Homo sapiens: one gene and its partner. The protein of the gene in region 2 interacts with the protein of the main gene of each other region in a biochemical or structural test. Each region holds a gene or a part of one and is shown on either strand. Other genes may lie near its edges.

Evidence for each region. The genes of interacting proteins can lie anywhere in the genome.
Region 1: the proteins of UFD1 (region 2) and NUB1 form a complex in vitro, tested with the Homo sapiens proteins (one study listed by BioGRID).

The regions. Positions count from the first base shown.
Region 1 is NC_000007.14:151,372,811-151,378,989, reverse strand, and holds the end of NUB1 (NEDD8 ultimate buster 1), read right to left. Parts: exon of another isoform or gene 4,894-6,179; coding exon 4,747-4,893; exon of another isoform or gene 3,143-4,746; coding exon 3,047-3,142; exon of another isoform or gene 2,357-3,046; coding exon 2,179-2,356; exon of another isoform or gene 1,944-2,178; coding exon 1,765-1,943; 3' UTR 541-1,764; downstream 1-540. UniProt on the Homo sapiens protein: Specific down-regulator of the NEDD8 conjugation system. Recruits NEDD8, UBD, and their conjugates to the proteasome for degradation. Isoform 1 promotes the degradation of NEDD8 more efficiently than isoform 2.
Region 2 is NC_000022.11:19,469,155-19,476,195, forward strand, and holds part of UFD1 (ubiquitin recognition factor in ER-associated degradation protein 1), read right to left. Parts: intron 6,450-7,041; exon of another isoform or gene 6,449-6,449; coding exon 6,316-6,448; intron 5,947-6,315; coding exon 5,914-5,946; intron 2,655-5,913; coding exon 2,533-2,654; intron 1-2,532. UniProt on the Homo sapiens protein: Essential component of the ubiquitin-dependent proteolytic pathway which degrades ubiquitin fusion proteins.

The DNA.
Region 1 (6,179 bases), on a different chromosome or scaffold from region 2:
CCAAGTCTCCATGCCTGGAGGGCAGCCCATTCTGGACATAGCGCATGCCCAGAACTGCCTCCACAGCCGGCTTCCTCTGCGGCTCTCTCTTCACAAGACACGGAAGAGTTTTGGGGCCTGCTGGTGTGGCATTGCTTCTATGATGGCTAAAAACAGCTGGGAAGCTAGAAGACACGCCTGAACCAAGCGCAGGACAGCGATTTGTTAGCCAAAAGCTTAAATTCAGGCCCCAAATCCAAGTGTGGCATTGTGTCAAATGAGGCTGAGACTCCGCGTCACCTCAGCTCACCAGGCACTTCTGAGGCAAACCCTGACAGGTACATTTCAGTCCCCTGCCCAGGATGCACCCCAGCCCCGCTTGGCGTGCGGCATCTTTCACAGCAGATGCCCTCTGCTTCTGAGATCATCCTTCCATCATCTCCTCACAAAACTCAGTGGAAACAGACATCCTGCAATCAAAATGAAGAGCTAGTCACCCAGACACTTTCAACACCTACAGCTGGGGAGGCTGAGTAAATTAATGCAAAATTAGGGTGACAATTTTTGAATATATTTCCCACCTTTTATTTCCATCGGTATCATCCGTTTAAAAAGAATGACAAGAAGATTCCCATCAGTCCAAACTGGACCACCCACACTTTGAAAAAGTTGGAGCATTTCAGCCGGCTCCGCATGATCCATCCTGTCTTCAGTCAGTGCCTTCTGGAAGGGAGGGAAAGTCTTGGATGCACCTGGCACTCAATCCACTCGGCACCTGGCTGCTGCTGTGGTCCTGGGGCTGGAAGGAACTCCCACTGGGCACACATCTACAGAGGAGTGCGTGGCGCAGTGAGGACGGTTACTGCTGGAGCCGACACACAGCGAACTACATACTTTTAGAAAGAGCCTCTGTCACATGGCTAGAACAACAACAACAACAAAGAAAACCCACAAAAAACCTGGAGAAAATATATCTAAATCTCTGATAGGTCTCTTAGCTAGCAGTGAGTTCAGTATGACAGCACAGAGTCTAAAAATATTAATTAAAAATAAATTGCTTTGGTTAGCATTTAAACCTTTCCCATTCAATAGAAGATTTCTGTAATGAGGAATGCTGAATATATATAAAGCCTGACACTCAATCTTGAATTTCGGGGGCGTATTTTACTGAACTAAGAGCATAAAACACTGGCGTCCCAGGCTGAAGCCATTTGCTGCGACCTGGTGTGGCCCCCAAGGCCAGCGCCTCATCGTTATGCCCCACAGCACTTGGAAGGAAGACTTAAAGGACGATTTGAGGGGCGGGGAAAGGGTGGCACAGGAACCCATGTGGCACCCTGGCAGAGATGGCAGCGTGGGAAGCAGGAAGGTCAGGGCAGTGGGTGCAGGAGGCAGGCAAGCTGGGCAGATGGAGCCACAGCTGGAGAGGAAGCGGTCGGGACACCCTTCCCAGGACCCTGCCCTGGACACCTTCCCCAGGACCCCTGTTCTACAGGACCCCTGTTCCTTCCTGTTTCGGGGTAAAACACCAAGCTGGGGAAGGGGTTAGGGACGCAGACCTGGGAGGCAGATGGAACGGCCTGCGCCAGGCCAGAGGAAGCTTCTTCCCCGAGACCACGCATGAAGGCCCTGGGACCCCTCCTGGACTTGTCCCCTGCCCACCCCCTCCTACACCCAAAGAGGACTTGTAATTCAGATAAAAAGTAAGAACAGAAAGAGCTGCATTAGCCTTTTCATAATGATAGCATTTATAAGCAGAAAATTAGCGCTATTTCTGTTCATTATTTAGTTTTTCTTTGTTGCTGACTTCCTATTTTCTACATAGGATAGGTACTCTGCAATAATAATTTCTTCATCTTCCAGAGTTGAGTCAAGATAGTCTTCCTCATGCTCTGGAATGTCTTCCAGTATCTCATTGACGGCCTCTGTCTCCATGTCTTCGTCTGTTGAGGCACTAGAGGTTCCTACAATAAAATACCGCAGGAGTAAGTGAATTATGTGAGGATTGTCCTGGGGACACTGCACGACCACAGTCAACCTCAGACTGTGCCTCTTGCTGGCCACACTGTCCAGGTGGCCGGCCCGGTGACGTCAGGGGACGCCCCCTCAGTCTCCACATCTGCCGTGGCTTAGGGCCACATCTGTTGGCTTCTGAAGACACTTTGCTCTCAATGCGGCCCTCAAAGACCTCAGACCTACCTGCGGAGTCAGAAGGGGACGTGGCTGGCGGGGACAAAGAGTCTTCTGGCGACAGCGGCAGCTCGGGAGGCAGGCTTCCTCCGTTGTGAGCAAGGGTCTGGGCGGCCAGCTGGACGTTGCCTCTGAACACTCTCAGCGCAGCTTCGGCCACGAGTGCATCAAAACCCATGTACACCAACTAGGGGAGAGCGCAGGGGTCACAGCATCAGCCCCTGGCGCCTCTTCTGCCACCCCCGTCAGCCATACGAGTGGACAGCCGACTCTCATGTTTAAGAGCTCCCGGCGTGTGCACCATGGCCCTTTGTGCACAAGTCATGCTTCTGTGCAATGTGAGCGTAGAGCAACCTGGAAGGGGGCTTGGAAGACTCAAGTCGGGTGCGTCAGGGAGCAGCCATCTCAGGACAGGCAGTGACCTCGGGCTGAGAGCAGGGCGCCACACCAGCCTCACCACGAGCACCGCGAGGTCAGTGGCCACAGCATACAGGCGTGCTAACGCGTGTAGGGGCACAAATGTGGACAGAGCCGTCACTTGGGATACAAAGCTGGATGGGTTTCCCAGGTCACAGTGCCATCCTTTTAGGTCACAGGCAGAGAAATGAGGCTGATGCAAACAGTGGTGCATAGACAAAGGCAGCAAACCTAAAGAGAACTTCCTGACACTTCCCCAGTTTTCCTGCTTTCCAAGGAGGCCTCCCCTGCCCTCTGTTACTGCGTGGGTGGCCTCTGAGGTGGGCAGGTTACACCTGGAGCCTGGGAGCCAAGGTTTCAGCACGGACTCCCCCAGTCCTGCTGCCTGATTCACCCGGGTTACCCCAAGCAACCCCACCCGAGGCTGTCCAAGCTGAGGGCACAAAGGCCTGTCACTCACTCGGTCAATGTTTTCCTGGGAAGGACTTTCTTGACGGTTGTCGGTTTCAGGATTGGAATCATTTAACCACCACATCTGAGGATTGCTGAGCAGAATCTAAAACACACAGGAACACCCTTTACCCATCACTAAGAACTCTTCACACATTCAGACAGGCGCTGCACCCTGCCATGTGCTAGGCAGACCCCGCCGTCCTCTGCTGCTATGAGGCAGAGAAAGGGGCTCCCACTCAGGCTGGTGTTCACAGAAGGCTTCCAGCCAGAGACCAGGACAGCTGGGGTTTGAAGGAGGAGCAAGACTAGTCAGGGAAAAGATCCCTTCTGTTAGAGCAGGAAGGGATGGAGAGCAGGTGGAAGCAGCATCCAAGAAAACAGGTTTTGTCAGAGCTACAGACAGAAAGGTCTCAAGCAGCTCAGGGCTGCCTGATTGATCTTTGAAAGCGTCATGCCCTCTAGACTTAAAATGTCAGGCAGGTAGTAGGGTTATTTTGACCCTTGATTTCTTCATCACACAATACTTAATCTTCAAAGACCCTGTGGAGACTTTCCTTTCCAACACTCAGTACTTCCATTTTGACTGGAAGTATTTTTGTGCCACTCGTATAATTCACATCTATTTTGAGACCCATCAGTCCCTTCGAATATTCAGAATTTCCCACCTCTTAATATTTCTCCAACACACAAAAAAACGAACTAGATGATATTCAAATAAAAATTTAAAATTTAACGTATATGTTAAATATACATGTACATAGTTACAAAAGTACTGACTTGTGGAGCCTTCCGGGGAACAGGGCAGGGATAAGAGGCAAAGGCAGGGTGGACTCCCCGTGCCTGCTGCACCCACACCCGCCTCAGCAGGGCAAACGAGGACACCTGCCCTGCACCCCACCCCCTCCAACCCCATCTCTGTCCCCCCAGCCCCGCCCCCAGCACGTGCACAACCTAAGCCAGCTCCTACCACTCTGCTTCCTGCCCGCCGCGCTGCCCCAGCATCTGTCTGGACTGCTGCCTCCACACAGCCAGCCCCCTGCCTCCTGTGCACCCCCTCGGGACCCCTCACCACGTGTGCTCTGAGTTTGTCTCTCACTGACCTGCGGGGCCGAGAGGGCAGAGGGTGGTTCCATGCCAAGCTGCTGAGACGCAGCGCAGCACCTGCCCTACTGAGGATTCGATATGCTTCTCCAACACAGGGAAGGAAGTGGCCCAGGTAAAGTCACTGCTGTCTGGATCCCAACCTGCTGTCACTCCTGAGGGGTTCTTTGAAAAGCTCTCCCTTTGCCAACATGTACGATGGACTAAATAAATAAAACTAGATACTTACATTTAAAATTTTAATGCCAAACAATTATACTACAAGTTGAATTCCCATTCTCTTTTTTCTGCCGTGGAAACTGCCTGTTTCACTAAACTCTGCTGCACACAGAAACCCTACACAAAGTCCTGGCCTGTGGACTGTGCTGGTGTGGACAGGCACCACGTTTTGGAGCCAGGCCTGGGCCAAGCACTGAGCATGGGGCCTCACGTGGCCTCACGCAGCCTGTGTCTGGGCTGGAGCCCAGGAGAAACCTGCCCTTCAGATCCGGATGACGGGGCAGCCCATAGGAGTGAGCCCGGGAGGATGCTGGAGAGCCATGGAGGGAGCTCTGGGCAGGACCCACTGCTCAGGGACAAGGCCAGAGGCCCCGAGGGAGCTGCTACCTTCAGGGCCTCATCCAAGTTCCCGCTGGCTGCGTGGAGTACCTGCTGGGCCGCGTGCGTGGAGTAGCCCATCCCTTTCAGAAACCTGATGTTCTCGAGGCGGCGTCTTTTCTTCTCTTTTTCCTCCTTCCTTATTTGGGCCAGTTCCTTTAGGAAAACAGCAAAGTCCCATCCCAAGTTAGGGACTGAGATTTCACAGCCTCTCAGTCTGCGCTCTGCAGGATTCTCCGCATTTCCAGGCAAAGCCAAAAAACCAAAGCAAAGCACAGGGGGCCCTCTTTCTACCTCTCCTCACCCAGCCAAATGGCAGAGGTGCCACAGAGGCAGAGGGGTGGTGGAAGTGCTGCTTCTGAGGCAGGCAGTGGAAGTGAGATGCCCGTGGGGCAGGAAGGAGGTGCCTCGCCAGCCCCGCCATCCACCATCCGGCATCAGGATGGGCTGCTCGCCAACCCAGCACTCCCACTGCAGAGGTCGCGGGTGTGAGGTGCATGGATTCTCTTCTAGGAACCAGGTAGGAACCGGGTAGGAGAGCTTCTGCACGCGGTGGGAAGGCCTTCCAGCCTTCGATGAATCGCCCAGGGATTCAAGTTAAAATGTGATGTGGAATCAGGGGCTCCTGGGCAATGCCAAAGCTGGTGACCCGCCCCCCACAGCCTGGGGAGCAAGGACTCCAGGGCCTTCTGAGGCCTGTCATTCCATTCGGAACCCACAGAGTGCCCAGAGACAAAGGTCATCTAACCTCTTGGTTCTCAACCCTGTTTCTCAGAGTTGCCTGCTATTGCTGCAGGAGCGCAGGACGGCTGCAGAGGGTTCTAGTCTCTTCACCTCTCCCACCCAGGGCCAATCAGGAGAGTTCCCAATTTATTTTGTAAACTAGTATCCCCATAAAAATGTCATTTAAAAAGGGGATTTTGCTGCTTAAAAACAACAACAACAAAGCAAGTTTGAAAACCAGGAATTTAATCCAACCTCATTATTTTCCCAACAAGGAGACAGAAAGCTTTCAACAAAGTTAAGTGACTTGCTACATTCTCCCAGGGAGACCAGCCCCACCATCAGCAGCAGCGAGGACGGGGGAGAAAACAGACTCCTTCCTTCCAGAGACCTGATCCTGCCTCCTGCCCAGCCCAGGCAACAGGCGCCTCCCTGCATTTTCCCCACAGCAGGAAAGCGGCCTCATCTCTTAGGAAAACAAAAGCATCATCATTGTGGAACCAGACTCCACAGGCCCCACAGTAGGAGCAGGCAGAACAGAGTGGCTGCTGGAAACATCTCCAGGGATGAAGACATCTGTAGACTCATGGCCTGTCTCTATCACAGGAGAACCTCCTGGTGTGGCCCTGGAGTGCCCACAGCGCCAGCTCCCTTTGCTTCCCCTTCAGCTGCACCAGGCCTGTCTCATGCCCCCATTACGTGCTCTACCTCTCAGTGGC
Region 2 (7,041 bases):
GGTGACTGGCTTTGGTAACGGGGGTCTGGCATCCCCAGGAGTGATGTTCTAACAGGAAGTATTCTAAGGCTCAGAGTTAGCCAGTCGCAGGCCAGGCGCACTGTCCCTGGGTAGATTTTTGTGGGAAATTTGTCAGCGAGGGGAAGGATACTGGGCTGCAATTGCAAGCCTGAGGGAAGGCTGGCCAGGGATGGGGGGTGGCTTCCTCAGCCAGAGGCAGGACACTGCCATAGGTGATGTGAGGAGGACAGGCAGAGAGGTCAGACTAGGGCTTGAGGTGAGAAATGGGCTGCTGGAAGAGGCCTGAGAGCACTAAGCAGGCAGGAGGAGCTGATGCCTGGCCCTCCCCATGCAGCATTTTAGAGCATACAGCACAACGGGCAGCCGAGTACCCACATGTCACAAACGGCTAGTCCAGGGCTCGGATCTAGGTCAGCAGACGAAGCCTTGGCTACAAGGAAAAAGGCCAGTACCTATTCCAGGCTGGCTCGCCCTGAAGAAGCTTGGGAGCATGGGTGGGATGGAGTCCACCAGCCAGCCCAGAAAAAGCACTGGCTCACATGCCCTCCAAGACAGCAGATGGGGTATACCTGTCACCCGCCTGCCCATGCCAGGAGCTGGAAGGCCAGCTCAGGGGAAGAGGTGGCCTGATGGCTTCACACCCCAAACCAGCTCCAGGCTACCTAAAGAGGCTTTCCAGGGGAGAAAGGGTTCAATTAGTTTCCTGGTCTAAAGCAGTCCAACAGCTTGGACAAGAGGCCACCCAAACTTCAAGTCTATGGGTTAAAGGAGAACCTTCGAGATACAGTGTATCCCCAGCATCACCACCTCCTCTTATAGGTGAGCCACAGAAGGGACTGGGGAAGTAGTCACTGCCTGACACTTCAGCTACCTAGAGTGGCTTCAGTGACCAGGTGTTCTACCGGATGAGCACAATGTGGCCTCAGGCCCTTGGGGGCACCTGCAGACAAACACAAGAATAGCAAGGGGCTGAGCAGCAAATACTGGGGAGGGCAGGTGAGCCAATCTGGGCTTTGAGGCATAAAAGCCCCCCAACAGGCCAGGTTGGGCAGGCCTAGTCAGCTGAGGTGAGGAGGCAGCATGGGAAGGCCAGGCACTAGGAGGTGCAATGGGAGTGCAGGGCTCTTGTCGGGGAGACACTGGCCAGGCCCAGACCTTGGGAAGGACCCTGGGACCCAGGCTGAAGAGGATGCCACTACCATGGCAGCATGGGCAAGGTCACCTGCTACAGCAGGAAAGAGACCTTCAGAATTTTGATTCATATTATTGTTGTTTTTTTTTTTTGAGATGGAGTCTCGCTCTGTCGCCCAGGCTGGAATGCAATGGCATGATCTCGGCTCACTGCAACCTAAGCCTCCTGGGTTTAAGCCATTCTCTTGCCTCGGTCTCCCAAGTAGCTAGGACTACAGGCACGTGCCACCACACCCGGCTAGTCTTTGTATTTTTAGTAGAGACGGGGTTTCACCATGTTGGCCAGGCTAGTCTCGAACTCCTGACCTCAAGTGATCTGCCCACTTTGGCCTTCCGAAGTGCTGGGATTAGAGGCGTGAGCCACCGTACCTGGCCAGAATTTCAATTCATATTTAATCTCAGAAAATATTAGTTAAGGCCATCCCTTCTGAACGTCTGGCGGCCACCATGATAGGGCATCAGCAGGAGAGGTGGGCTGTGCTTCAGACCACCTCCCTGGTGGCAGCCAAGCAAGCACTCCTGAGAGTTTCCAGCCCACAGCTCACTGCGGGGTCTCTCAGTATGCCTGATGTAATCCAAGCACAAAGAGAAGGACAAGCAGGTCCCTTTGTGAACTTCCCTAATGTGCCAGAGCTGGGGAGAGGAGTGAGGAGAAGAAGGAGCCAAGTGGGCCACAGCTACCTGTGTGGAACTCTCACTGCTGCAGGCTCCTCCCTACAGCACTGGCACAGTTCTGCTCACTTCTCTGAGGGGTACAGCCTTGAGGGCAGGCTCTGGTGGCTCACACGCCCTGGATATCCCAGCCCAGATCTGCAATGACATCCTTCAAGTCAACTTTCCAAAGAGAGCCTGCTTGTAAGGAAAAAGACGTCACTCCCATGGCAGCTCAGTTGAGAGATTTGGGAGACTACGTCAGAGGTAACTGAAAACATGTATGCTGTGACAGACTACTAAAAGTAGGGGAAAAGCATAAAAACCTCAAACACCCTACTTACTAGACCACCTAAAAAATACTGTTGCTCCATTATTTTTAAAAACGCCTCACCCAGGAAATCACAGATGAACAGTTCAGCTGCGCAACTATCAAAGAAAAGGCCACTCCCACAGCACAGTGGCCCACAGGTGCGTCCAGAGCCCACCAGCCCGCATAAGGCACAGTGCACTGCTCTGGATCCCTTCTCTCTCGCTGGGTCGGCTCAGGCTAAGACGCTGAGCAGGAGGAGTAGGCGGGGCCACCTGCTCCAGGGCCAGGACTCTCGAGTGCAGGAGATGTCTCTGCCTAAGTGGCTGCTCTCTAGAGACCCTGGCAGCCCCACTCACCCAGTGTGGGAGGTAGCAGATGCCCTCATCAGCCACAAACTCCAGCACGCCACAATGCGTCATGCGGTCCGAATTCTTATTGGTCAGTTTGAACAGCATGGGATAGGTAATGTTAAGTCGGCCTGAAAATAAGAGAGAGACTATGAGGCACAGCTCCTATGAAGGGACACCTGTTCGGCCCACGCCTTCCCATAGAAGGAGCCTCCCCACAATCCTGCCCTCAACCCCACACTCCTCTGGCAGATGAATCCCCCTCTGTGAGAGCACAGTGCACGGCTCAAGGAGGAACCTGGCAACTTGGTAACACAGCACTGGCATAGACTTGTGATTTTCTGAAGTCAACATTTTAAAAAGTGATGTGTTCATTCATTTATTCATAAATAATTTCAGTGCCCACCATGCCCTGGACAAAATCCCGACCTTCAAAGGTTTCTAGTTTGAAGGTAGAAACCTTCCAACAAAGAAAACCACAACCAGATGCTGCAGGTGCTGTGGGAAGAGCTGGCAGGAGGGGGCAGAGCTACTGGGCTAGGCTCCTAGAGGCCGAGTTCTTTAGGCTGGGCACTGGGCGGGCAGACCTGGGAGGAAATCCAGGCAGAGGTGGCAGCCTGAGCAAAGGCGTGGAAGGGAAGAGGAGCCCAGGCAGTTCAGAAATGGTGGATAATTAGGCAAGACAGGCTGGGGACAGGTGTGCGAGTGGTTGGGAAGGGGAGGGGCACCACACGGGGTAGAACCTAGGGCCTGGGCCCAGCGGGCAGTGTGAGCTCTCAGCAGGGTCATGACATAGGACGCCCCCTCTCTCTGATGGACCTTGAGGTGTGGGCTGAAAGCAAGGCCAGAGGCAAGTAAGCTGGACTGGTGACGTGCTGACCCAAGAGGTGCACAGGCACATAAAGGAAGGGCTGGCAAAAAGAGGCAGGAAAACCCAGGAGACACTGGGCCCCCGGGAGAAGACCGAGAAGGAACTGATGGTAGTGATGGTGTTTGCCATGTGTAAGGCCCTTGTTCAGTCTTCCCAGAACAGTCAGGTAGGTACTATCATTATCCCCTTTTATCTATGGGGAAACTAAGGCCCACAGGTTAAGTAACAGCACACAAGTGGTGAGCACACAAGACCTCACAGCACACAAGTGGTGATGCCAGGATTCAAACCAAGGCTGCTGGCTTAAGTCCAGGGATTCAACCATCAAAGCAGAATTTAGCTTGTTAGTTCAGACAAATATTCCAATAAAAATCACACTTAGTGTTAGGAAGTAACGCAGATTCCATTTGAGATCTCCCTAAAAATTCTAATAAAGCAAATCAAGTTAAAAGCTTGGGCAGGAAGCTACAGAGAACCTCTGAGAGTAGCATGGAGGTACAGTAAGGGTGGGCACTCCCTCCTATCACCAAGGGTGACTCTCACACTGGCAGTAAAGGGGCCAGGACCTCTGTCCCGGTCCACCTCTCAGCTGCACAGCCATGGAGCTGACATACAGCTGGTCCACAGTAAACTGGACTGGGCTCAGCCAAGGGTCTGAGATTGTTGCAAGTGAAAGAGACTCCAATGTCCCTCAGTCCACTGACTCTCAAACTGCATTTTGTGACTTAGAGGCTCCCAGTGCCCTGGGGCTCCCAGTCCCTCTGTACCCCCTCACTTTCTCCAAAAAAAGCAGAGAACCTCATTTTATGAATTAGAGGACTTCCTATAAGATTTAGACAGAAAGAGTTTCTCCCATCACTTAAAAGATTTGAACAACACTGATCTGAGCTACACCTCAATGACCCAGCCCCTGAGTCTCTTCTGGACACCTGTGCCAAGGGTCACCCCTGGTGTCTGGCTCCTGGGTCAGCATGACTTGAAAGGAAGACCTTTTTAGGGAGCCTGTTCTCTCCTCTGTAATGACAGGGTCTTCGTGAGAACTGTGAACTCCATAGCTCTGTTGACCTACTGGTTGAGCTGAGGCCTCCACTGGGTATAGCCACAGCCAGTGCTGGCTCAGGGGCTACCTCCACCTTGTGGTTGGAATCGGATAGCTTAGGTTGTCACAGACACTACAGTACTTCTGATGCACAGACACTGTAGATATCCCCAATTAAAGAAGAGGACATTGAGGTTCAGAGAGGTCAAGTTGCTACTCTGGAGTCAGGCTGGGCAAAGAGCCCGAGGTGAGTCACACCACAGCCAGCACCTGTTCTCTGCTTGCTGCCACCAGAGGCCCCCAAAACCAAGCATGAACCTGTCCTCCTGGCCAACCCCAGTCTCCTGCCTCACACAGGAAGAATTCACACCAGAAACACTCTTTAAGTCTGGAAGGCAATGACTGCATCCTTGATTGGGTTGTCCATGATAGGGATTTTCTGTGCCTGTGTAGTATGGGGCTAGGGCATGGGTTTCCAGGTTGCTCTCATGGGATAAGGGGTCAGAGAAAAGGGAGGAAGAATGTGGCCACTCTTAGAACCCCTGTGGGCCTATCTCACTCCTGGTAAGAGGCAGGAGCCCAGCAAGAGGAGTGGCTTCTGGATGGAAGACAATAGCTCAGTTTTTGACATGCTGAGGATGCATTGGTGCACTGGAGATTAGAAACGGGGGTCTGGGCCGGGCATGGTGGTTCACGCCTATAATCCCATAACTTTGGGAGGCCGAGGCAGGCAGGTCACCTGAGGTCAGGAGTTCAAGACCAGCCTGCCCAACATGGCGGAACCCCATCTCTACTAAAAATACAAAAAATTAGCCGGGCGTGGTGGCGGGTGCCTGTAATCCCAGCTACTCGGGAGGCTGAGGCAGGAGGATCACTTGAACCTGGGAGGCAGAGGTTGCAGTGAGCCAAGATTGCGCCACTGCACTCCAGCCTGGGCGCTAAGAGCAAAACTCTGTCTCAAAAAATAAATAAATAAATAAATAAAAGAAAAGAAATGGGGGTCTGGAGCTCAGGAAAGATGTTTGGTGAGGGGATGAGGAACCTGCTCACAGCGCCCTCTTGTGAGCTGACCAATTCTTCCTTTAGGAAAAAAATCTAGTGAGCCCAGCCAATGGCATCAGCTGCCCTGGCACGGTACAAAGCACTTGATACTTGTACCTTCACTTAATCCTGACAGAATACTGAGAACAGTTGGGGGGTGGGTGGAGGTGGTGATCAGGAAGGGAAAGGGAACCCCCTTCACAGAGGAGGAACCTGAAGCACCCAGGGCAGTGATGAAGCTGAGGTTCAGGGGGCCCTGGCCTCGCCCTAGGTACCTGTGACCCAGGTTCTCCCAGCCCAGCGCATGCCCTCCACGGACAATTCACAACCAGATGCTGACAAAGGGCACTGGTGTCTGGATGTACTGAGGAGCCCATGCTGACTCTTGGTGTCCATATGTACATTATCTAAGTCCTTAAGTCACTCAGAAGATACTTACTGAGTTGGTCCAGGGCCGAGGGTGGCATAATTACTGTGGAAAGAACATTTAAGAAATATTAAAAAATAAAAATAAAAAGGACAGACCAAAGGCAAGATGCAGTTTCTTTATATCTAACAAAAAGCCTTAAACTGTTTTTAGGGTAGCCAGAATGTCCCAGTGATCTTTCATGAAGAATCTTACTTGATGTAATTTATTTTGGGAACTGAATGGTTATCAGCCATAAACCTAACCATAATTAGCACCCCACCCCAACAGAGCAAGTCAGGGATAAATCCCAGCACCATTTTCACAGTAACACTAGCTTCTGACTCCCACATGCAAAGTAAGTACTGTTGAAGGCTACAGCATTGCAGACTTAGGGCAGGAAAAGTTACTATTCAAATAAAAACAAGCACATACTCTTCCCTCCTTTCTCCACATCTGACCTGTCATTAGGCCCTGCTAGCATGGACACAGAGAAGCAGCGGTACTGTGTGGAGAAGCGGTTTTGGAAGACCCTGGGAATAGGGTGGTCGAACATGTTGAAAGAGAACTAGAAGGAGGAAAGAGAAACAAGTATTAAAACAAAGGTACATTTCTTCATGTCAAAAGCCAAAACATGTCAGAGTAATTAATGCTACTAAACATTGTCAGAGAACACAATGTACTGAAATCTTCAATGTAATCTTACTAAATACAAAACAGGCCATGCCAAGCCTGTCCTGAACCTTTTTCAGGGCTATGCTCCCATCTTCATCCTCAGGATCAAGGCCCAACCTCTTGCATACCTCAGAGACTTGTACTGACAGCCCCACAGACTCCTGCCTGGGCTAGTTCCTCTGCCTTGAACACTTTTCCTATTATCATTAATCTAAACAATATTTGTTAATTGAAACATCTCTTTATTGAGTGCCTACTGTCTGCCAGGCTCTGATATGAGCACAAGGGAAGCACCACTCCAGTGATGTCTGTCCACTAACAAAATAGATACCACCCCTGTCCTGGTGAAAATGACACTCAAAGCAAGAGAGATATACACTCCAAGCAACGGACACACACACATGTGTGTCTGGCAGTTCTGAAGACAAGCAGCAGGGTAAGTAGACACAGGGCTCCTGGGAATGCTATTTTAAATAGGTGGTTAGG